Homo sapiens: one gene and its partners. The protein of the gene in region 2 binds, or shares a complex with, the protein of the main gene of each other region. Each region holds a gene or a part of one and is shown on either strand. Other genes may lie near its edges. The genes, in order: TADA2A, YEATS2, DR1 and MBIP.

What was found.
Region 1: YEATS2 (region 2) and TADA2A share a complex: the UniProt entries of both Homo sapiens proteins name them as parts of the ADA2A-containing complex.
Region 3: YEATS2 (region 2) and DR1 share a complex: the UniProt entries of both Homo sapiens proteins name them as parts of the ADA2A-containing complex.
Region 4: YEATS2 (region 2) and MBIP share a complex: the UniProt entries of both Homo sapiens proteins name them as parts of the ADA2A-containing complex.

What each region holds. Positions count from the first base shown.
Region 1 is NC_000017.11:37,465,735-37,473,366, forward strand, and holds part of TADA2A (transcriptional adapter 2-alpha), read left to right. Parts: intron 1-1,719; coding exon 1,720-1,791; intron 1,792-4,665; coding exon 4,666-4,798; intron 4,799-5,359; coding exon 5,360-5,403; intron 5,404-7,632. UniProt on the Homo sapiens protein: Component of the ATAC complex, a complex with histone acetyltransferase activity on histones H3 and H4. Required for the function of some acidic activation domains, which activate transcription from a distant site. Binds double-stranded DNA.
Region 2 is NC_000003.12:183,693,080-183,701,271, reverse strand, and holds the start of YEATS2 (YEATS domain-containing protein 2), read right to left. Parts: upstream 3,476-8,192; 5' UTR 3,279-3,475; intron 3,195-3,278; exon of another isoform or gene 3,062-3,194; intron 1-3,061. UniProt on the Homo sapiens protein: Chromatin reader component of the ATAC complex, a complex with histone acetyltransferase activity on histones H3 and H4. YEATS2 specifically recognizes and binds histone H3 crotonylated at 'Lys-27' (H3K27cr).
Region 3 is NC_000001.11:93,355,738-93,363,369, reverse strand, and holds part of DR1 (protein Dr1), read right to left. Parts: intron 2,878-7,632; coding exon 2,731-2,877; 3' UTR 1-2,730. UniProt on the Homo sapiens protein: The association of the DR1/DRAP1 heterodimer with TBP results in a functional repression of both activated and basal transcription of class II genes.
Region 4 is NC_000014.9:36,303,360-36,310,991, reverse strand, and holds part of MBIP (MAP3K12-binding inhibitory protein 1), read left to right. Parts: intron 1-2,802; coding exon 2,803-2,900; intron 2,901-7,632. UniProt on the Homo sapiens protein: Inhibits the MAP3K12 activity to induce the activation of the JNK/SAPK pathway. Component of the ATAC complex, a complex with histone acetyltransferase activity on histones H3 and H4.

The DNA of each region.
Region 1 (7,632 bases), on a different chromosome or scaffold from region 2:
CCCCCATTGCCCCAGATAAACAATAATTTAGTAGTTTTTCTCCCTACTTTGTATCATGGGAACTTTCAAATATATATAGAAGTAGAGATAATAATATGATGAACTCCCGTGTATCCATCATCCAGCTTCAGCAGTTTTCAACACATGGCCAGTCTGGTTTCATCTTTACCACTCACTCTTCCCTCCTGCCCTCAACTGGATTATTCTGAAGCAAATCCCAGACATCATTTTATTTTGTTCATAAATATTTTAGTATTAAAAGTAGTTTTAAAAATGAGGACAGAGATGGATAGCTTGTGGAGATAGTACTTCCATCGATCTCTTGCCTTTCTGTGGTATTTCTGTGAGAGCTCTACATAGTTACCATTTGATTTTTCACTATAAAAAATTAAAAGTTGTTATGAGGCCGGGCGTGGTGGCTCACACCTGTAATCCCAGCACTTTGGGAGGCCAAGGCAAGAGGATTGCTTGAGTCGAGGAGTTCGAGACCAATCTGGGCAACATAGTAAAACTCCATCTCTACAAAAATACAAAAGTTAGCCAGGCATGGTAGTGCACACCTGTAGTCTCAGCTACTTTGGAGGCTGAGGTGGGAGGATTGCTTGAACCCGGGTAGCCGAGGTTGCGGTGAGCTGAGATCACACCACTGCACTCCAGCCTGAGCGACAGAGTGAGACCCTGTTTCAAAACAAAATATGTTGGTATGGCAGTAAGGCCTAGATTGTTAAAATAATATGGACTCTGGCTTGTTCTGTACCTTTCATCATGACATTTGTGTATGTGGCTTCTAAGTTTAGTTCTGGGAAGGTAGTCTACTAAGGCCCTTATTCTCACCGTGAAAATATTTCTTACATAGCATTGCAGACATTTATCTGAGCCAGGTTGGTTGTCCTCACCAAACACCTTGTTTGGTTAGCATTCTTTGTGTGGTTTGTACCAGGTGACTGATCCTTTACTTCCTGTCCCAGTTTGGGACACACCCCTGGTTTATGTGTCATTCCAAAACACTACACCCCATGGATTGTCCAGGCTCTTCCTTCATTCTCTGTTTCAAAAGCAGCCAAATTAGAATGATTTGTAGAACTTTTAATAGAAGATAGTTAGAGCAGGGAAACTTGGTTGTTAAAAAAATTATATTTTGCCCAGTGCGGTGGCTCATTCCTATAATGCCAGCTACTTTGGAAGGCCGAGGCGGGTGGATCACCTGAGGTCAGGAATTCGAGACCAACCTGGCCATCATGGCAGAACCCCATCTCTACTAAAAATACAAAAATTAGCCGGGTGTGGTGGTAGATGCCTGTAATCCCAGCTACTCAGGACGCTGAGGCAGGGGGAATTGCTTGAACCCGGGAGGTGGAGGTTGCAGTGAGCCGAGATCATGCCATTGCAGCCTGGGCGACAGAGCGAGACTCTGTCTCAAAAAAAGAAAAAAAAAATTGTTACTTTTGTAGACAAATGAATTTAACCATTTCACTAAGTTTTCTAGAAGACAGTTCCAGCTGCTGCATCTGGAGACAGCAGCTGGAAGATAGCTGGAGTAGGTTTTCCTCAGCTCTTGGGTAAAATTTCTAATGAGAAGTTACCAACGAGTAGGATTCTCCAAATGAACTTCCCTAGTCTTATAAGGCAGAATTAATGAAAATGCTCAATAGCAAAAGTGCTCACTAATGTTGCTTTTGTTTTTGTAATTTTTTCCTTCATTCCTTTTGGGGAAAACAGTGGAATTTGAACTCCGAAGGGAAATCAAGAGGCTCCAAGAATACAGGACAGCAGGCATTACCAATTTTTGTAGTAAGTATGCTTCAGCTACATACCGTACTTGAGGGCAAGTATCTTCCAGACACACAGAGGAAGTCTCTGAATTGTTGTGAATTTTTTTTTAAAAAACAAGCTTTCCTTTACCAGAATGCTTTAAACCTTTCCAGTAAAGTTTTGGCTATTTAATCCCTATAAATACCTTTGTATAGATTATCTTTGGTACTACAAAAGTTGTGAGACAAAGGAAAGAGAGGTGCTGCTTTAGATTTAGGATTCTGCCGAGGCTCTTTAAAAAAAGGGAATCTTGGGCCGGGTGCAGTGGCTCACACCTGTAATCCCAGCACTTTGGGAGGCCAAGGCAGGTGGGTCACTTCAGTCCAGGAGTTCGAGACCAGCCTGACCAACATGGTGAAACCCTACCTCTACTAAAAATAAAAAAACTAGCCAGGCGTTGTGGTGCACACGTTTAATCCCAACTACTCGGGAGGCTGAGGCACAAGAATCGCTTGAACCTGAGAAGCAGTTGTTGTAGTGAGCCAAGATGGTGCCACTGTACTCCAGCCTGGGTGGCAGAGGGAGATTCTGTTTCAAAAAAAAAAAAAAGGAATTTTATATTTTAGGTGTGTCACCCTTTTCAAATTTAATGATACATGGTCTTAGCATTTTTATAAAATAATGAAGCTTCAACTGGCTCCAGGTGCTTGCATCCCAGTTACTTGGGGTAGTGACAATAATTATATTATTAGCAGCTAACATCTATCAGATATTTACCATGTACCAGTCTCTATGCTAACCATTTCACTTGGATCAAGTCAATGAATTCTCATGACAAACTTATAAAGTACCGTTACTTCCATTTAGTGAAGAAATTAAGGTATAAAGAGGTTACAGAGCTAGTTAGTACTAGAACCAGGTCATAAGAGATAGTGTATTATAGTAGTTAAGAGCTTGGGTCTAGACTTAAAAAGCTTGAGTATAAATTTTGGCTCTCCAGCTTGCCAGCTCTGTGATGTGATTCTATCCAAATTTATTTTTCTTTCCTTTTTTTTTTTTCCCTAGAGACTGACTCTTGCTATGTTGCCCAGGCTGGTCTCAAACTCCTGGCCTCAAGCAGTCCTCCCGCCTAGGCCTCTCAGAGTGCTGGGATTACAGGTGTGAGCAACTGTGCCTGGCCTCTATTCAAGTTTTAATTTTCTAAGGTTCTTAGAGTTAGTGTAAAGATTTAATTAGAGATACTGCATATAAGCATAGCACAGTATCTGGCACACAATAATTCCTCAATAAATGGCAGTTTCTGTTGTTTTGCTGTCATTGTTGAAATGATCTTTAGCATTCCCTCCTTCTTCCTATTTGAAGTTTTTGTGATTATTGATAGTTGTCACCTACTATCTATAAGAAATAGTTGGCTTCTTTTTTTTTTTTATTTGAGACGGAGTCTGGCTCTGTTGCGCAGGCTGGAGTTCAGTGGTGCCATCTTGGTTCACCACAACCTCTGCCTTCTAGGTTCAAGCGAGTCTCCTGCCTCAGCCTCCTGAGTAGCTGGGACTACAGTCATGCACCACCATACCCGGCTAATTTTTTTTTTTGTATTTTTAGTAGAGATGGGGTTTATCCATGTTGGTCAGGCTGATCTCGAACTCCTGACCTCAGGTGATCCACCCACCTCAGCCTCCCAAAGCGCTGGGATTACAGGTGTGAGCCACCACGCCCGGCAATAGTTGGCTTCTTAACACAGCCCTGTGGGTGCAACATAGCCTTATGGATGTAAGTTCAGCCTAGTATAATGGCTCTTTAACAGTGGAAACCATTTTTGAAATTAAATTTTGTGTGAGCCCCAATCTACAAATAAGATAAAAGTGGGCTGGGCACGGTGGCTCACACCTGTAATCCCAGCACTTTGGGAGGCCGAGGCGGGCGGATCACTTGAGGTCCAGAGTTCAAGACCAGCCTGACCAACATGGAGAAACCCCGTGTCTACTAAAAATACAAAATTAGCTGGGCATGGTGGCGCATGCCTGTAATCCCAGCTACTCCGGAGGCTGAGGCAGGAGAATGGCTTGAACCTGGGAGGTGGAGGTTGCTGTGAGCCGAGATCGCGCCATTGCACTCAAGCCTGGGCAACAAGAGCGAAACTCCGTCTCAAAAAAAGATAAAAGTGGAATTACTTTGGTTGAACTTTAATGGTTCAATTTATGTGTAGAGCCCAGGACCCGCCGGTATCTGGCAGTGCCCTTTCTCTTTACATTAACCTCTAAGATACTCTTGTGGTATCCTGGGGCTCTGTGGAACCTAGTTTGAATTTTGAAACCCACTGGTGCAGTATTTTGGAATCTGTGAACCTTTGTTAACATGTAGAAAACACCACGCAGCTCTTCTGTTTAGCAAGATGCATATAGAGACTCTGATAACTAATTTTGGTTTCCTGATATTGGCTGCCTCTAAGAAATATGGAGAAGAGGTACTACATGTCAAAGAGAACTCTTTTTTTGTAATTCTAATTGTTTTTTAAGGAAAGGCATATGCTTATAGCACTTGTGTGACTTTGAAAAAATTTATAAAAATAGAAAAAACAGGAAGCAAATATGACTATAGTAAAAGTTGGTTACTTTTTGAGAGTGGAAATATGAGCAATTCTTACTTTCTTTGTACTTTTCTGTTGGTTTTTTTCCCCTTATTTCTTACAGATAGAAAAGGAATACAAATGTTTAATATTTAATACTTAGTATTAAGAAAAGGATTTCAGACTAGGGAAAATCTACTTGGGTCTTGGAGAAATAATTGTGAAAGCAGTTTTGCAAAGGAAACAGACTTTAAGAACAAAACCCAAAACCGGTTTCTTGGTCAGTTAGGAAGCCCTTCAGTTCTGCTGCATTGTCATTGTGGTCATTGTGTTTTCTATACCCCCAGGTGCCAGAACCTACGATCACCTCAAGAAGACACGGGAGGAAGAGCGCCTTAAACGCACTATGCTCTCAGAAGTTCTCCAGTATATCCAGGACAGTAGTGCTTGCCAGCAGTGGCTCCGCCGGCAAGCTGACATGTGAGTAATTACTCCAGGGTGAAGGAGGCATTCTTTCTGGGATGCCTTGGCCTTCACATATATTTTTGGGCACCCTAGATGGCAGAGTAATAATAATTGAGTAGCTGGAAGAATTCAGAAATATTTTAGCAGTCCATCTCAGAAACAGTGCCATACTGACAGTTTTGAGAAATAACTGACCTCCTAGAATCATACTTTACTACTTTGATCCTATTTTTTAAAATGAGTGTATTTTCCCCCAGCCTTCTACCCATGACTTCAACTCTCTCTTCATACCTAGATTTTCACTGGGGAATCATGTTTGTATCCCTTCCCCTTGAGTGGTGTTAGTGGTGTTCTAGATTACAAGCTCTTCTTAACAAATCTGAGGAATTTTTCTTCCTCAGAACAGATTTTCTTTCCTGCTCAATACAGTGAGATATCTGTAAAACATAGTTCAGTCTATCTCATTACACTTCTTCAAGGTGACCTACCTGATAAATGGCACCCAGTCTCACCGGGGCTTTTGGAAATCACCTTGTTTGATATGACCTAAGTTTAAATTCCTCTTCTTCGTTGTAGTGATTCCGGCCTGAGTCCTTCCATTCCAATGGCTTCGAATTCAGGTAATTATTTCTCAGGCCAGAACAAGTCTTAATTGTGAAGTTTGCATCGTAGGGGTTATAGTGACCCAGCAATCTTCCTTCCTCTGTGGTGTCAGGGTGCTTAGGCAGAGTAACAGTAATCAAGTGTTAGCCCAATATATAAACATCAGTATGTTTTCAGAACCTTCATGGCCAGACAGAGACTATCCTCAGAGTGACAGTATAGAGTATAGACAGTATAGAGACAGGGGAAAAAAGAACTTCAGAGAGGTAACTTCTTTATTTTACCAATGTTCATGAGCAGTTAGTTTACTGCAGTTGTGTCTACCACTAATTTTGAGACTTATTTCACAGGAGATAAATTAAAAGCTTTTTATTTTATTATTTTTTATTTATTTACTTATTTTTTGAGACAGAGTCTCGGTCTGTCGCCCAGGCTGGAGTGCAGTGGTGTGATCTCGGCTCACTGCAACCTCCGCTTCCCGGGTTCAAGTGATTCTTCTGCCCCAGCCTCCCGAACAGCTGGGATTACAGGCATGCACCACCACGCCTGGCTAATTTTTGTATTTTTGGTAGGGACGGTTTTGCCATGTTGGCCAGGCTGGTCTCGAACTCCTGACCTCAAGTGAGGCACCCACCACGGCCTCCCAAAGTGCTGGAATTACAGGCGTGAGCCACCGTGCCCAGCCTAAACTTTTTATTTTTATATAACATGAGCAAAGAAGCATGTTACTTGCCAGAAACATAAGGATTTCTGAGTTAGAGACCTAAAGTATTTCTATTTCTTCGTTTTACCTCTTTGAGTATGTCCTATTTTGAAATTAGTATACAGAGCAAGATTAAGCCATACGCTATCTGATGATCCTTGGTGATTGGTAATCGATGACTGGGAATTGGGGGAGGTATGTCTCAGTAGATTCAGAATCTGGGTCTCAGATTTGTCCGCGTTAGGGACTTTTTTTTTTTTGAGATGGAGTCTCGCTCTGTCACCCAGGCTGGAGTGCAGTGACGCGATCTTGGCTCACTGCAACCTCTGCCTTCCGGATTCAAGCGATTCTCCTGCCTCAGCCTCCCAAGTAGCTGGGATTAGAGGCGCCTGCCACTATGCCCAGCTGATTTTTGTACTTTCAGTAGAGATGGGGTTTCGCCATGCTGGCCAGGCTGGTCTCGAACTGCTGACCTCAGGTGATCTGCCTGCCTCGGCCTCCCAAAGTGCTGGGATTACAGGCATGAGCCACTGCGCCTGGTCACTGAAGGGACTTTTTTTTTTCCCCCATTTATTCCTTTATTTCAAGTGATTTTTTCTTAATATGGAAAGAAGAAAAAGGTATTGTTTTAGGGGAGTGGCTAAGACAGTGAAATCAAAGTTTTATTTTGTAAGTTTCTTACTGCCAACACTCTACCCCCAAAATCTAAATACAACTAAGTTAATACTGGCTAATTAAAATGAAGGAACTGGGTCAGGTGCAGTGGCTCATGCCTGTAATCCCAGCACTTTGAGAGGCTGAGGCGGGCAGATCACCTGAGGTTGGGAGTTTGAGACCAGCCTGACCAACGTGATGAAAACCCATCTCTCCTGAAAAAAAAATATAAAAATTAGCTGGGTGTGGTGGTACACATCTGTAATCCCAGCTACTCCAGAGGCTGAGGCAGGAGAATCGCTTGAATCCGGGAGGCAGAGGTTTCAGTGAGCCAAGATCGCACCATTGCACTCCAGCCTGGGTGACAGAGTTAAGACCATCTCAAAAAATAAATAAATTAATTAATTAAATTAAATGAAGGAACTGGCTAACATGATCATATATTTTTGTTCTCTGTACTATCTGCACTGACTTGTTCATTGTTTCTTTTTTCTTTTTTTGTGAGACAGGGTCTCCCTCTACTATCCAGGCTGGAGTGCAGTATGTGATCATGGCTCACTGTAGCCTCAAACTCCCAGGCCTAAGTGATCCTCCCAGTTCAGCTCCTGAGTGGCTGGGACTACAGGTGAATGCCACCAAACCTGGAGAAATTTTTTTTTTTTTTTTTTTTTTTTTGGTAGAAACAAGGTCTTACTATATCACCCAGGTTGGTCTTGAACTCCTGGGCTCAAGTGATCCTCCTGCTTCAGCCTCCCAAAGTGCTCAGATTACAGGTGTGAGCCTCTGCACCCGGCCTCTTGTTCATTGTTTGTTCCTAGCCTGTGTTAGCCTTTCTCACCCCTTATATTTAGGCTGAGGAGATCTCTTGCTCTCCTTTATGTTCTGAGTT
Region 2 (8,192 bases):
AATAAAAATACAAAGCAAAAAAACTTAGCCAGGCGAGGTGGTGGGTGCCTGTAGTCCCACCTACCCAGGAGGCTGAGGCAGGAAAAGGCGTGAACCCGGGAGGCAGAGCTTGCAGAGAGCTGAGATTGCGCCACTGCACTCCAGCCTGGGCGACAGAGCGAGACTCCTTCTCAAAAAAAAAAAAAATTTATATATATATACACACACACACACACACACATATATATATACACACACCAGTTAAAAGAGTGCAATTCAGTGGATTTCAGTATATTCACAAAGTTGCACAAAAATCACCACTATCTAATTCCATAATGTTTTCATCACTCCAAAAAGCAACCACTTACCTCTTAATTGTCACTCTCAATTCTCCTCTCCCTTCATCCCCCTGGCAACTACTTTTTGTGTGGATAAACTTGCCTGTTTCTGGACATTTCGTATAAATAGAATCATACAGCACGTGGCTTTTTGTATCTGCCTTTTTTTTTTTTTTTTTTTTTTGAGACGAAGTCTCCCTCTGTCGCCCAGGCTGGAGTGCAGTGGCGCGATCTCCGTTCACTGCAACCTCCACCTCCCGGGTTCAAGCAATTCCCCTGCCTCAGCCTCCCGAGCAGCTGGGATTACAGGCCTGGGCAACAGACTGTGATTCTGTCTCAAAAAAAAAAAAAAAAAAGAAAGAAAAGAAAAGAAAAAGAAAAAATCTGCTTCACAAGTCTTGTTTTCTGTGAGAAAACTGCATCAACTCCCACCATCTACTGGGTATCACGACAGAAAACAGACTGAAAGCAGAGCAGGACCAAAGGCAGGGAGATAGGGAACAATCCAAGAACGTGGCAATGAACATTCAAATAAAAATCCGTAGTTGATGAGAAGAGGACAGGACCAACTATTTCTGAGAATCTATTCTAAGAAAATACAGGGTAATGTACATCGTATGTGGGCTACACTCAGAGATCTACAACCTAAATGTTAATTCTCTTCTTCCTATGGATTTTATAATAAAAAATAACCCACAGTAAAATATCATGCATCCACTGAATGAACATGAAGCATTTGAAACTGAGAAACATGTGGGGAGAACTCTGCATGCTGTATGTCAAGCTACCTATTTTTAATATCTAAAGAACTTTTGACAATCAATTAGGAAATAACAAAAGATGACAGAGAACAGGAAAAGAAATTCACAAACAGCCAATAAATGGGAAAAAAATGTTCAAACATACTAGTAATCAATAAATGAAAAAAACACAAGACACCATTTTTCATCGATTAAGTTTAGTTTTGGGGCAGATGGAAATGGGGCACTTTTTTTCTAATTTGCACTCATTAGTTTCATTTCCTCACATCCGGTTCCCACCTCCCACTTCCAGAACTATGGACAGGAAGACCAATGACCAAAACCAATAACCACCGTGTTGCCAAATTCAATTGACAATCTTAATGAACATCTCAGAAGCCCTGATAAAAGGACCAATTCAACATCTTCCAGAAACACCTCTTTTGGCTGCCATGATACATGCCATTTTGGTAGGAGCTTTTTCTCCTACCTCACTTGCTGTTTCCTGCGTCCTTTCCCCAACCTTCTTCCTCTACCAGACCTAGAGGTATTTGAGTGTCTGCGCCCTTTTCACTTCTCCACACTCTTTCCCCTCAGTGATCTCACACAGCACCATACCTTTGAATATCATCTACGTACAGATCACTCCCAATTTTTTTTTTTTTTAAGAGACGGGGTCCTTCCTGCCTTGTAGCCAAGGCTGGTCTAGAATATCTGGGCTCAAGCGACCCGCCTCGGTCTCTCAAAGTGCTGGGATTTCAGGTGTGAGCACCGCGCCCAGCCACTCCCAGATTTTTATCTCTAGCTCTAGCCTCTCTCCTCCTTGAGTTCCAGCCCTCTACATCCAACTGCCTCAACACACCGACTTCATAACTAACATGCATCTAAAATTTAATACATCTAAAATAGAATTCGTTTTTCCCACCTCAAATTTCTCTCTTCCATTCTTCATCTCAGTAAACAGCACCACCACCTACTCAGTTGCTCAAAACAAAAATCAAAAAAGCAAAGATTCCCACCATTCCCTCACCAATCCAAGTCTTGTTCATTCTACCTTAAAACATTTAAAAATCTGTTTATACTTCCCCATCTCCCTGCCACGGGCCTAGTCCAAGCTACTGCAAAGAGCACAGTAACTGACCTCGTAGGTTCCTCCCCAGCCCTCTTCCTCTACATAGCAGTCGGATCATGCTACTCGCCTTCTCAAAACCTTCAAAGGCTTCCCGGGAAAAACTAAACTCCTTATCAGGGCATCATCTGCCCTATCTTTTAAAGAGTATACACAAACAGGAATATACATCCAAGGGTAGTATCTCTAGATCGTAAAACTGCGGGCATTTTTCTCTGGCTTTGCTTGTATTTTTAAATTTTTCTACGCTGAATACCCTCTACTCATTAAGAAAGGGGAAATGATATTGCTGAATTCTATATAATATTATACCGCATTTTTTACATGTGAGCGAGAAAAGGGAATGGAAAACGTGGGTCAACTCTGTAACTGCTGAATGCTTAGATGAAAATACTAGCCAACATCAAACTAAAAAAAAATGATGTGTCAGGCCTGTAAGATTGCTGATGGCATTTCTCTTCCTCTGGTTTCTATTTCTTAACATAATCACATTCATGATGGAGAAAACCTCATTGTCTTCTGCAGTCTGGCCACAGCCCTTCAAGCCAGCCTTTCCTGCAGGAGTCCTCACTTTCCGAGGCTTCCACTCCGCCCCGCACTGCCCGCAGCTCCGGCGCGTTGGCCCCGGCCCCATCCCTGGACCCCCAAAGCCTCTCTGACCCCTCCCCTCCATCCCAGGGAGGCCCGGTGGGGATGGCGACAGGTTGGAGGGGCATTCCAGGATCCTTTCGGTAAACCCACGACTTTCTGGTGCTGGGGCCAAATCTTGCCTCCAAGGCCAAGAGCTTAACATCCTAAAAGCTCCGGCCGCTGTGGCTCGGGGTCCCGTATCCCCTCAGCGCAGCGCCCCGCTGAAGAGGAAGCCCCCAACTCACGTTCCAATTCCAGGCTCCCGCTTCTGCGGCTCCCCGGCCCGCACCTGGGATCCTCCCTGCCCTCCCCTCGGCCCCGGGGCCTCACCGGGTCCCGCTGCCGCGCTGCCTGCCGATGGGGGAGGGGCGCGCACGTGCCCGCGCCGCCCCCGCCCAAACAATGCCCCGGAGAGCGGGGCGCGCTCCCGGCCGGTCCCTTCCTGCGCCCGCCAACACTCACCCTTTCTCCGGGTCTCCGGCTGCAGCGCGGGCCCCGCCGGCCGCCGCGAGAGAGCACGGCGAGGTGAGAGAGCGGGCGAAGCCCCGCGGAGCTGCCCCGCCACAAGGCCCCAGCGACCCCCGCAACCTGCGGAAGCACACGGCGCGGTGGAGCCCGCCCGGCGCGTTCCGCCCCGCACGTCAGCAGCTGGGCGCGTCGGGGCGCGCGCGGCGGCGCGCGCGGCCTCGGGGCGGAGCTCCCAGGGATGAGGGCGGGGCGGGGCGGGGCGGGGCTGGTCCGGGCTGGGACCCCGGCCCGCGAGGGCACTTCCTGGGCAGTGTGGGCGTCGATTCTTGCAAAGGCACAGTCGTCCATCACTTTCCTGCCCCAGAAGATGGCGAATTTCAACCCCAAGTTTGACAGAATATTCATTCTGCCGGCGTGTATGAGCTTCCCTATTAATCACAATAGTGACTATGATGTTTGTGTGTGCCATCTTTGTGCCAACCCATGTGCTAAGTGCTGGGTATACAAAATAACAGTAGTTATTTCTAGCCCATTTTACAGATGAAGAAACTGAGGCAGGGAAGGCTTGAGACTTATCTCAGTCACACTAGCTAGTGACAATCCAAGTCCAGTTTTCCACCTAAATATCACTTGAGGCCAACATTCTCTTTCGTTGTAACTCTACCACCCTACCCAAGACCCTGTAATCTCTCTGCCCAAGACTATGAATAGCCTCCCAACTGGTCTTGGGGAACTTCTGTTCCCCTTCAATCCCTTCTCACTGTATAACGATTTACTACTGGAGCTGAGTGGTGGGTTTAGGAAGTTCACTTTTTTTTTTATACTTTACATACATGTTACCAAATTTTTAATGTATTTAATGTTTTTATCAACGCATAATAAATATAAGTGGTGTTTTGTTTTTTGTGTTTTTTTTTTTTTTTGAGATAGAGTCTCCCTCTGTTGCCAGGCTGGAGTGCAGTGGCATGATCTTGGCTCACTGCAGCCTCCGCCTCCCGGGTTCAAGCGATTCTCCTGCCTCAGCCTCCCAAGTAGCTGGGATTACAAGGCGCGCGCCACCACGCCTGGCTGATTTTTGTATTTTTAGTAGAGACAGGGTTTCACCATGTTGGCCAGGCTGCTCTCGAACTCCTGACCTTAGGTGATCCACCCGCCTCAGCCTCCCAAAGTGCTGGGATTACAGGCGTGAACCACCACCCCCAGGCTAATTTTGGTTTTTTTAGACAGGTCTCACTATCACCACAGCTAGTCTCACACTTCCGGGCTCGAGAGATCCTCCTGGCTGGGCACGGTGGCTCATGCCTGTAATCCCAGCACTTTGGGAGGCTGAGGCGGGCGGATCACCTGAGGTCAGGAGTTCAAGACCAACCTGGCCAACATGGTGAAACCCCGTCTCTACTAAAAATACAAAAATTAGCCAGGTGTATTTGGGCATGCCTGTAATCCTAACTACTTGGGAAGCTGAGGCAGGACAGTCACTTGAACTCGGGAGGTGGAGGTTGCAGTGAGCCATTGCACTCCAACATGGGCAACAAAAGTGAAACTCCATCTCAAAAAAAAAAAAAACTAAGAAAGGCTTCCTTGAACCTTAAGCTAAGACTCAAGAGATAATAGGAACTGGGGAGATAAACAAATTTCATGGAGAAGGGGGTGAGGTCACAGGTCAGGATGAGTGTGTTGGTGTTCCCCTACTCTTAGGGTTTAACAGTGAGGTGGAAAGCATAGAAATACCCAGATAAGTGCCAAGAAAGCTAGAAGCTGACTTCCCTTGGTGTAGCTTGGAAGGCTGTCCAAGTCTGTGAGAAGGCTCACACAGTAGGGCTTGGGAGCAGGCCATGGCGTTGGGAGGAGTCTGCAATAGTGCTGCTGGAGCGCTGCAGCTTGCACATTTAGGTATGTCAGAATTCCAGACTTCTCTTGTTGCTCCCTGCCTGGCATGCAGAAAGTAGCATGGTTAAGAGCCATGGACAGACCAATAGGCACTGTGCCAGGGGGCAGGTTTCCTAAAGCAGAGGCCTTGTGGTGGGCTGATGGCCAGGGAATGGCTACAGAACGTAGCTAAGACCCCAAGGATAGGCAGTACTGAAGATACCAGTGGAGCTGAAGCACCCCTAAGTCAGCTGGTGAGAGGAGCGGGGATGGAGGAGTGGGGATGAAAGATGAGACATCAAACTCTGAAGGTGCTAAAGCAACAGGTCATGAGCTTGCCAACCAACCACCTCAGCAGCTGATGCCTGCAGGGCAGTGGAGACCAGAAGTCACCAGAGACATAGCAGCAGAGGCCAGTGAGAACCCAGGCTATAGCTTGAAATCCCGCACACAGATCTCCCCTCCCACCGCTGCCTTGAGGCTTCCCCTGTATCCTGTAGGCCGCCTTGGGAAGTCAAGGGGAAGAAGGGTAAAGTTCTGATAAGACTACAACTTTGAACTGTTTACCCAAATATTCACCAAAATGAAACTTTTTTTTTTTCTTTTGAGACTGAGTCTTGCTCTATTGCCCAGGCTGGAGTGCAGTGGTATGATCTTGGCTCACTGCAACCTCCGCCTCCTGGGTTTAAGTGATTCTCCTGCCTCACCCTCCCGAGTAGCTGGGACTACAGGCGCGTGCCACCATGCCCGGCTAATTTTCTGTATTTTTAGTAGAGACGGGGTTTCACTGCGTTAGCCAGAATGGTCTCGATCTCCTCATCTCGTAATCTGCCCGCCTCAGCCTCCCAAAGTGCTGGGATTACAGGCGTGAGACACCACACCCAGCCTATTTGCCCTTTTAAAAACATCACTTGCAGCTGGGCGCGGTGGCTCGCGCCTGTAATCCCAGCATTTTGGGAGGCCAAGGTGGGTGGATCACCTGAGGTCGGGAGTTCGAAACCAGCCTGGCCAACATGGTGAAACCCCATCTCTACTAAAAAAAAAAAAATGCAAAAATTAGCTGGGCGTGGTGACACATGTCTGTAATCCCAGCTACTCTGGAGGCTTGAACCTGGGAGGTGGAGGTTGCAGTGAGCCGAGATCATGCCACTGCTCTCCAGCCTAGGTGACAGAGTGAGACTCCGTCTCAAAAAAAAAAAAAATCATTTGCCCCAATGAGTAGGTGGGGAATGACTGAAGAGGTGTGTGAACATAGAAGCAGTGAGACAGTTGGAAAGCAATTTCAGTCATCCAAGCAAAAATTGAGGGTGGCACTGGTCGTGGTGGCTCACACCTGTAATCCCAGCACTTTGGGAGACGGAGATGGGCAGATCACCTGAGGTCAAGAATTCAAGACCAGCTTGACCAATATGGTGAAATCCCGTTTCTACTAAAAATACAAAAAAATTAGCTGGTCGTGGTGGCTTGTAATCCCAGTTACTCGGGAGACTGAGACAGGAGAATCGCTTGAGCCCAGGAGGCAGAGGTTGCAGTGAGCCAAGATCGTGCCATTGCACTCCAGTCTGGGCAATAAAAGGGAAACTCCATCTCAAAAAAAAAAAAAAAATGAGGATGGCTTACCCTGGCAGTGGAGATGGTGGGAAGGAGATAGATACAAGAACTATGGAGAAAATACCAGAAGACTTGATGACGATGAACTGGGAGGAGACTGGGGAGAGAAGGGAAGGGGACTGGCCTCTGCTAAGTCAAAATGGCCTCTTAGATAAACTGCCCCTTCCTCCAGGCAGACTCAGCTCTGCTCTGGAGCTTGGCAAGTGTTTAGAGGCTGGTTTTAGGCTCCTGGCTAGCCAGGCTCCCTTAGGCAGCACTCACCTGCACAGCCACTGGAGGTGGGCCTGGAGGGAGAACTGGGGTTGGCTCATACGTTTCCAGCAGTGGCTGATGGTGGATGATGGTGTCATTTCCTGAAAGGAGGGAGACTAAAGGAAGAACAGATTTGAATGTTGGGGGTGGGAGAATCAAGAATTCCCTTTGGGGCATTTTAAGTTTGAGGCATCCACTCGAATACTTTTTTTTTTTTTTTTTTTTTTTGAGACAGAGTCTCGCTCTGTTGCCGAGGCTGGAGTGCAGTGGTGCGATCTTGGCTCACTGCCACCTCTGCCTCCCGGGCTCTAGCGATTCTCATGCCTCAGCCTCCCAAGTATCTGGGATTACAGGCGTGTATTACCACACCCGGCTAATTTTCATATTTTTAGTAGAGACGGGGTTTTACCATGTTGGCCAGGCTGGTCTCGAACTCCTGACCTCAGGTGATCCACCTGCCTTGGCCTCCCAAAGTGCTGGGATTACAGGCATGAGCCACCACACCTAGCCCTGAAGATATTAAATCTGTACATAAGGCTTTGGGGCTCAGAAGAGACCTGATGGGTGGCACTGTCAACGTACTGTTGTCAACAGGTAGTTAATGAACACTGGTGAGGTTGCCATGAAAGAGTACAGTTCAGAGAGATTGCGTAGTCACAGCCTACAGATGTCACATTTTGTTTTAAATGAGCCAACATTTCAAACACTGACAAATTTCACATAATACCCTGAATTTCTGCTTCTATGGAAAATCAGAAACTGTGGTAACCTGGCCATACGTTGTTATTTTTTATTTTATTGTTATTTTTGGGGGGATGAAGTCTTGCTCTGTAACCCAGGCTGGAGTGCAGTGGCACGATCTCGGCTCACCGCAACCTCTGTCTCCCAGGTTCAAGCAATTCTCCTGCTTCAGCCTCTCGAGTAGCTGGGATTACAGGCGCATGCCACCACATCCGGCTAATTTTTGTATTTTTAATAGAGAAGGGGTTTCACCATGTTGGCCAGGCTGGTCTTGAACTCCTGACCTCAGGTGATCCGCCCACCTCGGCCTCCCAAAGTGCTGAGATTACAGGCGTGAGCCACCGCTCCCAGCCCATACATTGTTATAATTGGATATTAGCTATTAATAACACTACTTACCAGGCAGTGCTCCAAGCACTTCACAAATTTAATCTT
Region 3 (7,632 bases), on a different chromosome or scaffold from region 2:
AGTCACTAAGTTTGTGGTAGTTTGTTACAGTGGCAACAAGAAACTAAAATATTCACAAAAATGATGAATGAAAAAAAGTGTATTATGTATGATTACATTTACATAAAATAAAAAACAGGCAAAACTAATCTATGATTTTAGAAGTCAGGATAGTAACTTTCAGCAAGAAAGAAGACAGTGTTAAGATGGGGAAAGAGGAGGGCTTCTGGGGTACACATAATGCTCTGTGTTTTGATCTGAAGACTAGTATGTGAGTTTGTTTAATTTGTGAAAACCTTTATTTGTGTACTGTTTTGTGTGTGTGTGGTATATGCAGTTTTAAAAACTGATGCCTTTTAAACACTTACTAATCTGATAATCTGCCGAAAAAGAATATATAACATATATTCAAGGGGATGGAAAAATACTTACTGAACAATAATTTTATTTCTCAAGAACGCTGAAGATTTTGTTTCTCTCTTCAAAAGATTTAAAAAATTTTAACTGGCAAAACATAATAGTGACTCTTAAATGCTAAAAAAAAAAAAAAAAAAAAAAAAAAAAGAAAAAACCTAAAAATAAAATATTGCATAAGTAAGCTTTGTTATGCCTCGATCTTAGGACTGTAAATTATAAAAATACAAGTAAAACCACATTTTTTGAAATAACAGTAAACAAAAACAAAAGGCAGGTACTACATACCAAATGACCAAAATGTCTTTTGGGCCTAAGATTCTTGAAAATAGTAAAAATGGTAATAATAGAAATCTCTCTATAGAACATTAAATATAAAAACCATTTATAAAACACATCACAATTTTATTGCTTGAAGAATACAGCATATGAAATCACAAGAATGTCAAAATGAAAAGTCACTAGGCTTCAAACGTATAATACATTATCAGATGCAGTAAAATATTAACCTGAACTCTGCATCAGAAAAAAAAAAAAAGGTGTGGAAAATATCTAAGTTGTTTACTTAAGAAACAGATATACTTAAAATAGAAAGTATAAGGATGTTACAGTACAAATTAGAAAAGCCAACACGTATTAACTTATCGTTCTAGACTAGACTACCTTTGGTACTTAAACTTTTTAAAAAACAATTTCTTCTATCTCATCCAAATGCACTTCATGGGTATGACATCCATGAAGTAACTTCAACTTAAAACATTCAGCAAAATTAACCTTTTCACTTCATGGGGGAAGTATATTTAATAAATGTATAACAATATTTCCCTTTTACTAAAACTGCAAAATATGATCATTAAGAAACCTAACAGTTATAAAACTTTACTTACTTAGCTCTCCAATTAAAATTGGAATCCTGGGAGCCACAATCTATTTTTGGGCTTGGTGAATACATAAGTTTAAAAGATTTGGCAACTGACATAGGAATTTAATTACTTAATACTATCTTAAGTGACTTTTCCTTTCTGTTTCCAAAATATAGACATTATGCCATTTCTTCAACATCCTGGATTCCTATAAACACTACCATACTGTATTTATTAGAACCAAATTAAAGCTTCTCTAACAAGCAGGTAGAAACTATTTATGTTCCATATACGGCTGATAAGTTATAACACAACTTATGTTTCATATAGGGCTGATCAGTTAATTCATATAGGGCTGATCAGTTGTAACATAACTTCTTAAGCAAAACTAATCTTTTTTTTAAAGCTATCACTCAATTATGGAGACAATAATGTCATCTCAAAAGGTAATGTTGGACTCTAGGCCATCTAGTTGGGAAAATGTAAAAGTAATTCTAAAAACAATAAGTAAACTATAACTACAAGTTAAATTAAAAATCCCTCTCTCATAGCAAGCATGCTCATTAACTTTCATTTCTTTCCCCCAGCAAAGGTTTGAATATTCATAAACCTCAGTTAAACCAAGAGAACCAATGTAATTGTTTCAAAAGTACCACCTATATATTTGAATAATATGAGTATGGATGGACTAGGTAAGTAATACTATCAACAATTACTGAATTGGAGTGAAAGAGTAAAAATCATGACAGACTTCCAAACTGGGCAGTCTTTGAAATGTCATAGTGGAGCTCAAAATGAATTATGCTGTAATAAAACTATAGTTTTTACCTCTACACAAAACAGAAACAAAATAAAAAAACATAACCACCAAATTTATACAAATACTATTAAACATACTCCTTCCTAGTTTTTGAATGTCTTGAAGTTTTTCTAAACAAGTATATTGATCTGAGCATATATATTTATTGCCTATATATGTACTCATTTTAAAAGACAAATTCAGATACTACAGAACTGAACTCTTTCACCAACCCAATCCAATGTCTACTGATTCACACAGCACCCCCCCCTTAATAATTTAAAATTCACAAGTTTTAGTTTAGTTAAAAGGGCAGAGGAAATGCAAATGCAGATTTAGAGCTTTGTAGAAATTTCACTGTATTTTTATAAACTTGAAGTTATCTGTAACACTGTTTATTGATCAAACGAAGGACTCGCTGCTATCTAAAATTTCATAAACACCATTAAAAATTCAAAATTGATATTATACTGAACCTTAAATTTTCAATAGTTCAAAGAGACAGTTTTTACATGTATAGCACACAATAGATGAAACTTAATAGCAGACATCCCTAGAATACCAATGACAAGTCCACCAAGATGCATACAAAATTACAGATAAGCATTTCTTTCACTGTTTTTGTTGTGCAGGGAAAAACATTTATAGAAGAAATAGAAACTCAGCTGGTGAATTTCAGATATCATCATCATCTTCTTCATCCTGAGAAGATCCCGCCTGATTAGATGCACTGGCTGAGGCAGCAGCAAGCTGGGCTTGTTGGGCAGCTTGCTGCATTTGAAGCCATTCCTGTTGGGCCAATTCTGCTTGTTGCTGTCTAGCCTAAACACCCAAAACATAAAAAAAAATAACAATTTTTTACAAACCCACAATATATACACTTTGGTTAAATGTAGATTAGGCCAATTTCAGACAGTTTATTATCATACTTGGATACTGTCCAAGTACTATGTAATTGTCACACATCTGGAGAACATAAACTCTATAGGTAAATATAATTAGAGATTGCTTTTTTCTAACTACACAGGTCTAAGAAATTTCTCAAACTTGGATCTCTTATAAATGGCCCTGTTTTATTTCACGTAATTTATGACCTTTGATTCAACTGAAGAAGTTGAAAAAGTGGAACCAATATTGTGAAAAACCCACAATATTCCCTCTGGCTCTTTCCCTCTTCTTTTCCTTTCATTTCACTTGACTCTTCTGTACCCTCATATTACAACTTTGATACAAACATTTTTCAATCTAAAATTTATTTATATGGTTTAAAAGTTCTCTAGTATAGTACCTCTACCTCATAGGAAAGAAGTACTGTACATGTATGCAGTAGCTACCCCATTATTTCTTTCTGAGTTTCTATTACAATTCCCTAACCTACTATATGCCTATCTCTCTGTGTCCCTCATTCCCTCTCTGTAAGTACACACATTTGCATATACACACATACAAATATACATATCCTTCCCGTATACACACTAGTAAAAAGATACTACTTAAAATCCATTCATCTGATATATCCTCTATTAAAAACAACCACAGGATTTAAGAAACCAGGATGCATACATTATTAATTACCTATGAAACAGCTAAGGCTCCTTCACAATTTAATTTCATCTGTTTGCAGAAAAACCACACCAAGAAGGGAAAAAATGAACCTGTTCTTAAAAAGGTCTTACAATTTCCCATTAGACTCTGCCAAAACAATCCTTTTCTCCTTCTCTGTCTGTTCTTGGAATTGTTCTTTAAGTCCAACTCAGACCCTCCCCTTTATGCATAGCTAATTCCTAGTCATCATCTGAAATGCAAATCAGCTAGTCTTTCTTGACCTTTCCAAGCCATATTTTATGCTCTATTTAATATACCATAATTCCCTATGCATTCCCATATCCATCCACTTTGTTCTAGAATTATCTAAGTTTATATCCTTTTTTTCCACCACACTTGAGAATAGAGATTGTTTCCATATTCTTTGTTGCATTCCTAACATAAAGGCCCTCAGTATTTTCTGAATGAACATGCTACAGGAAAACAGTGATGCCCAGCATAACCAGTAACATTTAAGATTTTACCATGTACAATCCTCACTCTTCTGAATAATCTGTCATGACTTTATTATCCAAACATTTCTAGATATAAATTCTAATCAGGTCACTATTTCATTTTTTTAAAAAAAATCATTTGTTATCAATCAAATCCAAATTTCCTAGCCTAGAGTTCAAGGTCTTCCAAATTAGTGTCTACCCCAACCTCTCTATAGTCTTTTTTTGTAACATGTACTTTGTGCTTCAAAAAAGCCTAGAACACAAAATGTTTCCCAAATATACACCATACTTCCTCATCTTTGCTACCTTTACTCATGCTGACACTCATCCTATGTGAAATTTCCTGCCACTTACTGAAATTCTACCCTTCCTTCAAGTCAAACTGAAATACTATTTTCTCCTCCTGGCATCAGTCAGTGTATAATCAAGAGATAGATGTCACATGAGTTACTGGAATGGAAAAAATTTAATACGAAGAATTGTTAAACAAGTATAAAGTTGTTATTAGGGAGCTGAAAAGGCAGGAAGAGAACATGAAGATGTCATGAAAGTAGCAGCTACAGGAAGCAGCCACCAACCCTAAAACTGAGGGAATAAAGGAAAATGCTGGAATTTTTAAAATTTAGAAGCTTAAGAAACCACTTCATGGAACTGAAACTCAGGCCTCGGAAGAATGGGCATAGATAAGCTAGTACTAATATATCTGCGCTTGGAGGAGGGCCCCAAGGGTTGGGATCCACACTGCCAGAGTGGGGGGATGGGGTGCGGGTTCAGGCTGGTGGTGTATTAGAGAAAATGCAAACCGCGTTCAGTCTCTGCTACAGGAAAACTGATGCAACCAGGGTGAAGAAGTGTTGCTGGGTTGTTCAAAGGAACTGAAAGACAAGAGAAAGTAAGAGAAAACCCTTTCTCTTCCTCCATCCATGCAATCTCCCACGATAGCCCCATATGGCAACAGAGTCTAATGGAGAGTCAGCTAGCAAAGAAACATGTGGCTTGCAGAGTACTAGGTCCAGTCACAAAGCAGAGCATAGAAAGGTGGGTCTGGAGCTAAGATAATTGCTTACTAGTTGGCATACTCCTGTACCCCTAAAATTTGATGTAATGTTTCCATACTTGGGATTTCTTTCTCTTTCCTTCTTCCCTCTTTCTTTCTATTTTTGTAGAGAGAGGGTCTCACTATATTGCCCAGGTTGGTCTCAAACTCCTGGGCTCAAGTGATTCTCCCACCTGGGCCTCCTAAAGTGCTATGATTACAGGTGTGAGCCACTATGCCCAGCCAGAATCTCTTTCTCATAAGTGGTCAGCCTCATATTATAGTTATCTTCCTCATCCAAGTAGTCAGTCTCATAATGATATATTCTTCATTTTTTTTTATATCTATAGTACCACATATGTCTTACATACAGTAGGGACATGTTAATTGAATTCTGACTTGAAATTTGTTGACTGAAGGGCAGGAGTAGGGTGGTGCTGGTGTAGGTGGCAGTAGTGAAGTGGAAGAAGAAAAGCTATTACCTTGGGGGAAAGCTATCCAAGTAACCATAGTATCAGAGACTAATAAAGGAAGAGGTCTACATTAAATGTTATTTTTAAAAAAACAGATGAGTAAGAATTGAAAGGAAAAAAAATTACTGAATTTGGTGATTAAATGCCTCTGTGGTAGGACAGAAGTTAAATTTGAGGAATAAGTGATTGTACATTTTCAAAAAATGGTAGCACTGATCATTATTTATTTATTTATTTATTTATTTTAGAGATGGGGTCTTGCTATGTTGTCCAGACTAAAGTGCAGTGGCTATTTACAGGCATAGTTGTTATGCACTGCAACCTTGAACTCCTAGCCTCAAGGGATTGTCCTGCCTCCATCTCCCGAGTAACTGGGACTACAGGAAGGTGCCACCTTGCTTGGTGGGTAACACAGATCATTATAGCAAAAGATGAAAGGGTTTGGGGGATACAAGGAAATGCAGAAGACCCGTATATGGTTAAAGGCAAAGAGGAAGAAATAAGTAAGGAAAAGACTATAGATATTAGAAAAAACAAGGATAAGACAACTTTTACAGTAAACAAAAACTTCATTTTGCTTAGGAAATTAGAAACCATCCATTCTCCCTAATAATGACTGTCATCCATTTTTGTAAAGAAATAGGAAAAATAGTTGATTCTAACACAATAGCATATTTACTTTTACGGCAGGAATATCCAGAGTTCAAAACCAACTAACAGAGCTTCGCTAAAAACATTTTAAGGCCGGGCGCGGTGGCTCATGCCTGTAATCCCAGCACTGTGGGAGGCCAAGGTGGGCGGATCGCCTGAGGTTGGGAGTTTGAGACTAGCCTGGCCAGCAGGATGCAACCCTGTTTCTACTAAAAATACAAAAATTAGCCAGGCATGGTGGTGCATGCCTGTAATCCCAGCTACTTGGGAAGCTGAGGCAGGAGAATCGCTTGAACCCGGGAGGCGGAGGTTGCAATGAGCCGAGATAGCACCACTGCACTCCAGCCTGGGCAACAGAGCAAGACTCCATCTCAAAAAAAAAAAAAAAATTGTAAGAGTTCATAAGAAAATTGCAGGGCAAATCAAATACATAAATTCAACCAACATAAGCATACCTATATTTTGTGGTCTAATCAACTACAAGTTGGTATAATTTTGTGACATGGAAAAAATTCAAATAATTTCAAGTCTCTACAAAGGTTTTACTGCAAAGGTGCTTGATTTGGTAGTCTATTCAATGGTCTGCAAAGCTGTGTACTAGTTACATTTCAAATTTAATTGACTTTTAGCTACCACGGCCCTGTATCAGCGCTGATACTTTTCTCTGAACATAAAAACATTTCTATGCCTTTAAAACTAACTGTTGAGCTGGGCTCACTAGTGCACATCTATAGTCCCAGCTACTCATGAGGCTGAAGCAGGAGGATCCCTTGAGCCCAGGAGTTCTAGGCTGAAGTGTGCCTGATCGAGCCTGTCAATAGCCACTGTGCTCCAGCCTGGGCAACATGGTGAGATCCTGTCTCTTTAAAAAAAAAAAAAAGTTGATTGATAAAATTTTATTTGTATTCATTTCCACAAATTGAACATTTTTCAGTGATATTTACTGTAATATATTTTTTTCTCTCTTGCCCCCTACTCAATCCATCCCAAGTATTTTTCTTCTAAAATTGGGGTGTGAAAGACAGGTAAGCAGGCATGTATTTCCTAATTCACTTTTCTTTTGGAGGTTTTCATTATGTTTTAAGATTCTCACTCCCACATATTAAAATGACTCATTTATAATTTAAAGTTAACTTTAATCTTGATGTATTAAAGGTTCCCTCCTTCCAAATATTTGCTGCTAGCTTCAAATGAGGCTGTCATTGTGTTAATATTTAAAGTCTAAAAAATGAAACAAAATGAAAGTGATAAAAAAGATATATTTACTTATCCACTCTTTCATATTTAGAACTTCAGTGCTCTAGGGAAGAAGTACTAGGCAACTGCTATAATATTACCTCTCCGCTGGTCATCCTCACAATAGTAAAGAAATACT
Region 4 (7,632 bases), on a different chromosome or scaffold from region 2:
CTGGTTTCTTTGCCACTGGACTCCTCTAGATCATCTCTACCCTGTGGCCAGATTGCTTTTTCTAAAGCTCAAATTTGATCTTGTTTCTTCCCAGCTAAAAATGTGGAGATTGGGATTGAAGGGGGTTTGTAATTTTAAATAGTATTGTCCACATCTGTAGTTCCAGCTACACCTCTGGGCTTCCCATCTCCCACTCGTTGTGCTGCTTTAGGATCTTTATACTCATGCCCTTCTGTCCATGCTTTTTCTTCCTAATCCTAGACCAGTGCAGATTCACCTTTTGTATAATCTTATATAGCACCTGGTATTCCCTGCTCCCCTTTAAAGCAGTTATCATGGTTCTGTTTGTTTAATGTCTGTCTCCTGCTAGATAGTCCGTGAGAGTGCAACTATGTCTGTCATATTCATTTCTTTGTACCTATTACAGTGCCTGGCACAAAGCAAGTGCTCAAATGTTTATTGAATGGACAGTTGCTTATTTCACCTTTGCAGATGTATGTACGGAGGGACAGAAAGTTAGTGTTTGACTCTCTCAGGGTAGGTCAAGGGATGATGGCATCCTAATGAAGTGACATTTGAGGCCTTGAAGGATTAGTAGGAATTTTCCAGAGCAAAGCATTCCAAAAAGAAGAAACACCATTTGCAAAAAAGGACAAAAACACAAAATATGGTTCAGGAGATATCTGAATCCAGTATAGCTGGAGTATACTAGCTATCTGAAGCTATGCTAGCCAGATGAAGGTAGAAGAAGAAAACAGAATGAGTAAGTCTTTGAGAGTAATAAGACACTGGCATTAAGAATTAATCTCTTCCCTCAGAAGTGGATGGGTTTAAAATGCCACTGTATAAAAGGATTGACTGGTTAAGTCTCTAATAATAGTATGAAACAGTTAAGTTTTTGGAAAAATATCTGTTGAATGTTTACTATGCTCCAAGCACTATTTTAGGCACAAGGGATACTGAGATGATATAATCATAGTCCCCAGCTTCAAGGACTTTATAATCCAAATGAGAGAAAGATTAATAGTGAAGTAGAGTTTTAAAGGAGTAATGAAAGGATGGGTGTAGTGGTGTGTGCCTATAATCCCAGTTCCTTGGGAGGCTGAGTGGGGAACAGAGCTTGAGTCCAGGAGTTTGAGACCAGCCTGGACAGTATAGTGAGAGTCTGTCCCAAAAAACTCAGGAGCACTGAAGAATGGTGGGGGCACAAGGAGCCTTTATGCGAATGAAGAGGTTTCGGCAGTGCCTGCGTTACCCAGTGAAGCTTGAACTGGCTCTTGAAAGATACAGAAGTAAGGCAGAGGACATTGTAGGTAAAGGGAGCAGCAAAAGCAAAGTCAAATGAACAAGTTAACTTATTTAAGAACAAGAACAACCAAGGTCCTAAGATTTCTTAAAATCCTCAAAATTTCTAGAATTTTTACATAACAAGTTGACAATTTTGATATAGAAATTTACCCGTATTCTTTAATTGCATAATGATTGGCTAATCATGTATTCATTCAGTCAGTAAATATCAAGCACCAGCTCTTTGCCATGCATTGTAGTCTTATGAACTGATGCTTCCTAGGTTTGTGCAGTGCACAAGCTGCACAGCCCTACCTAATGAACAAAACAGATAAAACTCTGTCCTCTTGGAGCTTATATTAGAATGGGGAAACAAATAATACAGAAAGAAAATATACTGAATGTTGGGTGGTAGTAATGGAATGGAGAAAATTAAGGTAAGGAGGATAAGGGAGTGCTGGGTAGGGGAGTGGTAGTACTGGTATTTTTAACAGAATAGTCAGAGAAGGTGTTACTGATAAGGTAACTTTTGAGCCAAGACTTGAAATTGACTTGGGATTATGGCGGTAGAGGGAACCAGCTGAAGCTTACAGGGTGCTTGGCCTCTTTGAATAACAGAAAAAAAGTAATCAAGTGGCTGGAACCATGTGGGCATAGGGAGAATATCCACATTGTGTATGGCCTTGTAGGCCATTGTGAGGGCTTTGGTATTTAATCTGAGTGAAATGATCAGGTATTGGAAGGTATTTAACCTCAGTGAAATGATCAGGTATTGGAAGCAGAGAAATGATGTGATCTAACTTATATTTTTAGAGGATCACTGGCTCCTGTGTTGAAAATACACTCTACGGAAGCATGGCAGAAACAGGGAGACCAGTTTGGGAGTTGCAGTAATCCAGGGAGAGGTGGAAGTGGTCTGGACCAGAAAGGCCACAGTGTGGAGGGGGTGAGAAGTAGAAGGATTCTTGATATAATCATAAATTTAAAATTTGAGTGGCCATAATTTACTCTTCCCCTCCTCAGAAAGTTTGTTAGTTTAGAATTATGGTAAAGCCCCTTTTTTACATTCTTTTAGGTCAAAGGAAAAATATGGCATGTAGGGAGAAATATTAATTGAAGAAAATAATATGACATATTGCAACCACTGCATTGAATTATCGTCATTTGTCACTATGCATTTTTGTCCTCCCATGTAACTATCAAAGCATATCAGAAATATAAATTGTTCTACATGGAAGCTATTCAATATCTTGTAAAATGAATTTAACATGAAACTCCTAGAATATAGGAAGCATAAATGGGGTTTGGAGAGAGGAAGTGTAGTACAATATGTCCGATAGTGTATAATACAAAAATACGACCTAAGGACTTCATTCTGTTTTACTTTTGTTTTTTATTTTCTTAAGTATTTTCCATTCCTTTGCATAAGTGTCTTTGCATGGTATTTTAAGAATAAAAATTGTGAAAAGAAAGAATTATTCAATAGTATCTCAGATTTTTTTTTAATGTATTTAGGTGGTCCAGTGCCAAGAGACATTTATCAGAGAATTAAAAAACTTGAGGATAAAATCCTTGAATTGGAAGGCATCTCTCCTGAATATTTTCAGTCTGTAGTGAGTATAAGTGTCTTTTAAAAATAAATGAAAATGTTATTGTATTCTGGATTCTTTGTGGTTTAACAGTCACTCATTGATCTATAAGCAAAACACTATTTTAATAATTCAAAGATGAATGAACACAGTCCTGTATAGGGGATATATCTAATTCCTTAAAATCTCTGGTTCTGAATATTTTTAAAATTTAGAATTTTTAAAAAGGGATACTTCTATTATATATTACCCACATTCTCAAACTTAGGCCATTTTCATGGCATAGTAAGTCAGCCTGGGTGGTGGTTGGGCCTGTTACTCTGAACTTGCTACCTTGTAAAACAGAGGCTTCCTCTGTAACCTTGCTCTTTCAGTGATCCCTCTGCCTCTTTAATCTCTCTTCCCCAACAGGCTCCTTCTCTCAGCTCATATGCAGTTAATACTAAACAAACACACACCTCAAGCTGCCACTCTTATTCTTTACCTTAACCACCAGACTTTCTATGTTTTTGTAATTCCTTAACTCTAGCATTCATTCATTCTTACCCCGTTTTCCAAGAACCTTAAGAAACAGTGTTGTGCTGGTAAGTTAGTATCTTTGGCACATCAACATTTTTCAGAAAAATGATCCTGAGCTCATTGTGTTTTCCTCAGTCTTCTGAGGTGATTATGTATAATACCTGCCTTCTCTAAGTTTTGTTTTTTTTTTAAAGCAGTACCATATTAGAACTAAAATAATATCAAAGTGAGATTATACCAAAACTCCTATTTCTGAAAAATTATGTGAGATAGCCCATTTTAGCATGGATCATATAAGTTAGTGGTGAAAATATATTTAAAATTTATTTTAGGTATGACAGCAATCTTCCAAAGTTATAGATTGAGTATAAGAGTGAGTTACAGAAAAGAAGTATTTCCAGAAGAAGAAGGCAGGTCACGTAACAAAAGGGAGCAGCAAGTCCTAAATGACAAAATTTCAGAGAAGAGTTTTAGTGATTTACTACTCTCAAATGTAAAATGAGGTTTATGAAAATACTAAGGGCTGAAGCAAAGATCAAATGAGATAATGCTGATCAAACACTTAGCATACTGCTTAGCACATGGTAAAAACCTCATTGGCATTTATTTAGTTTTATAACTACAAAGTAGCTGTATAAACGTGGAAAAGTCACTCTATTCCTCTGATCTTCAAGATGTCTAATTTTAGAAAATGTATTGGTTGTACTACATAATTACAAAGGTCTTTTCACTTTTAGGATTATTCTTTGAATGTCTTCCTAGGAGACTTCATAAAGATTTTTAATGACTTTTCCTACAGTAGTCTACCATAAGTTTTTCCCATTCTAACTGCCTTCATTAAAGAAGGCAATAACCTAGGAAAGTTATTTTTCTAGTTCAATTTCATACCTTGTTAATATAATTCTTATTAACGATAGAACCGATCTTACAATAGAGTATGGTAAAATCAGATGCCTCCAATGAGAACTTGCTGCAGCATCATTCCTCTCTTCTCTCTGATTCTGATTTATAAAAACTTAACAGAGGCCGGATGCAGTGGCTCACGCCTGTAATCCCAGCACTTTGGGAGGCCAAGGTGGGCGGATCACCAGAGGTCGGGAGTTCAAGACCAGCCTGACCAACATGGAGAAACCCCATCTCTACTAAAAATACAAAAAAATAAAAAATAAAAAAAATAAGCTGGGCATGGTGGCGCATGCCTATAATCCCAGCTACTTGGGAGGCTGAGGCAGGAGGATCGCTTGAACCCAGGAGGCTTAGGTTGCGATGAGCCAAGATCACGCCATTGCACTCCAGCCTGGGCAACAAGAGCAAAACTCGGTCTCAAAAACAAAAAAAACAAAACTTATAGATGTGTTTAACAAAAAAAAAAGCCCTCCACATCATAATCTTTTTGTTTTGTTTTGATCTGTTACAGATAGGATAGAGTGGGTAAAGAGGTAGAAGTAGCCAGATTGTTAGGACCTTAAGTGCTATGCTCAGAAGTTTAAAATCTATTTTCCAGGCAGGCAGCAGGGGGAATCTACTGAAAGCATTTGAGCAGAGAAGTGATTTGTGAACACGATATTTAGAAAGATTTATCTAATACAGTTGTGGGAGACAAACGAGAGAAACTAAGGATAAGGAGATAGTATTATGCTAGCTTAGATGTGAAGTTAGTTCCTAAAATAGGGACATGAGTGAGAATGGAAAAGATTAATGCAAGTAGGAAAAAAAATGGACAAATACTGATGATTGGATGTGGAAAGAGACAGAGAACAAGGATAGAGTCCAGTTTCTGGTTGGAAAAATGATACCATCATTGATAGAAATAAGAAAATCTAGAGAGAGAGATACTTTTGTGGGAAATGTGAATTTGAAGGCAGAGGAGGTTATGAAGGTAAAAACATCAGGTAAGCTTTTTGAGATACGGCACTTACACTTGGGACAATTGGGAGAGTCTGTGTAGTGTGAGAGTCCATTGATGGATAGGAACACAGATTGTCTGAGGCCTGAAGTCTGAAGCTTGGTGACTGCCTAATTTCAGGGGCAGGAAGCATTTGTAAATGTAAACAGAGGATTGGCATATATGTATTAAGCATTCAGAAAAGGATGGATGGTGGCAACCTGTGATAAAACAGGTGATTTTTAAAAGTATTTCCAAATATGTTAAAAAAAAAAACTATATATCTTTTAGAAGAACTGCAGTTCTTCTGGATTAGTGTTGTAAGTGACACATTAAATTAGTAGTGAGCTACAAGGAAGAACAAAACACTGGAAAGTTTAAACATTCAGACTCATTCTGTCCTTTAGGCCTGTGAACATACATGACACAAGCCCTATGGGAAAGAAGATTTCATACTCATCACCCTTCTATAATAGGATGAATGAGCCATCTTTAGGAACCTCACTTGGAATACAGTCAGCTCTAAGAGTGTCCTTGCAAACAGGAGAAGTTGAGCACATACCTTACAGAGGACATAGTACATTATTCATCACCCTCACCATCATGCTGGGAGTACATGCATGGTAATTGCATAATTTTACATATTTATCCCTCAAAAGTATACAGAAGAAACTACATATGTAGCACAGTCCTATAGCTTCTAAAGATAGGAAAGGAAAGTTGAGCCCATTCAGTTTATTAAGGATTGAACTTTTGTTGGAACTCCTGAACTCTGAAAAGATTTTCATTGAAATGTGTTTATTCAGATTCACATGTAGATGAATTCTAAACATGGGGGAGCTTCTTACAATTGGATAGAGATTGATTATCATGGGTAACATTGAAGCGTAGCATAGAAAAACAAATATTTATGGGGAAAAAAGATGTCATTTGTATTTGTTTTATAAAATGTAATCAGATTATGTAAAGTTCTCATTTTACGACCAGACATAAAACTCCAAAATAAGTTATATGTGTATAAAACAGGATTTATGACAAAAGTTAATAATACTTGTTGGACATTTTGATATAAGAGTTCTAAAGATCTTTATTCTTCACATTAGCCATGGAAAGCTTTAAATGTAATGTTTTCAAAAGTTTAAGGGCATGGCCTTAACAGTCCATTTAAAAGAACGATCTTAGAGTATTTCCAAAGACTTACTGATTTTAAATTATGATACTTGAAAACAGTAAGTACCAACATGCTTTTACAAGTATATTGTTTAGTTTATAGCATTTATCACTCATATGTTTATACATGTTTTTCACTTTATATTTTGAAACTCTCAAGGGCAGGAACTATGTCTTGTTCATCTTTGAGACACAGAATGTAGTCAATATCGAGTAGATGTGCAAATGAATGGATAGGACTTGGCTGATAGCTCATTATTGGACTTTGAAGGTGTGTTAACTTTGTTCAAAGCACTGACTGAGAGTAATTTTTAGTCTGTAACAGTAACTCCTGGTTCTTAAGGGAAGTATCGGGGGAGGGGAATGCTGAAAATCAGGTCAACATCATGTACACAGGCCATGTGCGTGTGAACGTGTGGTGGGTCTGAAGCATGAGTGAACAACTGGATTCAGCTAGAAAATTAGATTGTAAACATATTTCAGAGGGCCTTGAAGGTCACACTAACCAGTTTGCACTTCTAGTATCATTGGAGCACAATTAAGTTTTAGAGAAAGAGAGAAACTTGTAATTTAGGTCCCTGTCTGGTGGCATTATGAAGTCTGAGTTGGAGAGAAATTGGAGTCAAGGAAACTAGTTTAGGAAACATGTCATTATCCAAGCCAGAGAGAAATGAAGGTCTGAATCAGGGCTCTGGGACTAGAAGGGAAGAAAAACATTTTAGATACTGCACGCATAGAATCAGTTGCCTTTTACAACTGAAAGAAAGCAAGCCAGTCATGGAAGAGGCCTCCTTACCCTTGAGTTTCCTTAGAGCACTGGTTCCCTGGATTCATATGTGTGTGTGCATGTGCGTGAACGTGTGTATGACAGTCATGCTCTGCATAAGGATGTTTCAGTCAACAGTCAACTGCATATATTACAGTGATCCCATAAAATTATAGTATGGTATTTTTACTGTATCTTTTCTATGTTGAGACGTGTTTAGATACACATATACCATTGTGTTACACTTGCCTACAGTATTCAATACAGAAACATGCCATAAGGTTTATATGCTAGGAGCAATAGACTATACCATATAGCCTAGGTGTGTACCATCTAGGTTTCTATAAGTATACTCTATGATGTTCACACAATGACAAAATTAACACATTTCTCAGAATATATCCCCATCATTAAGC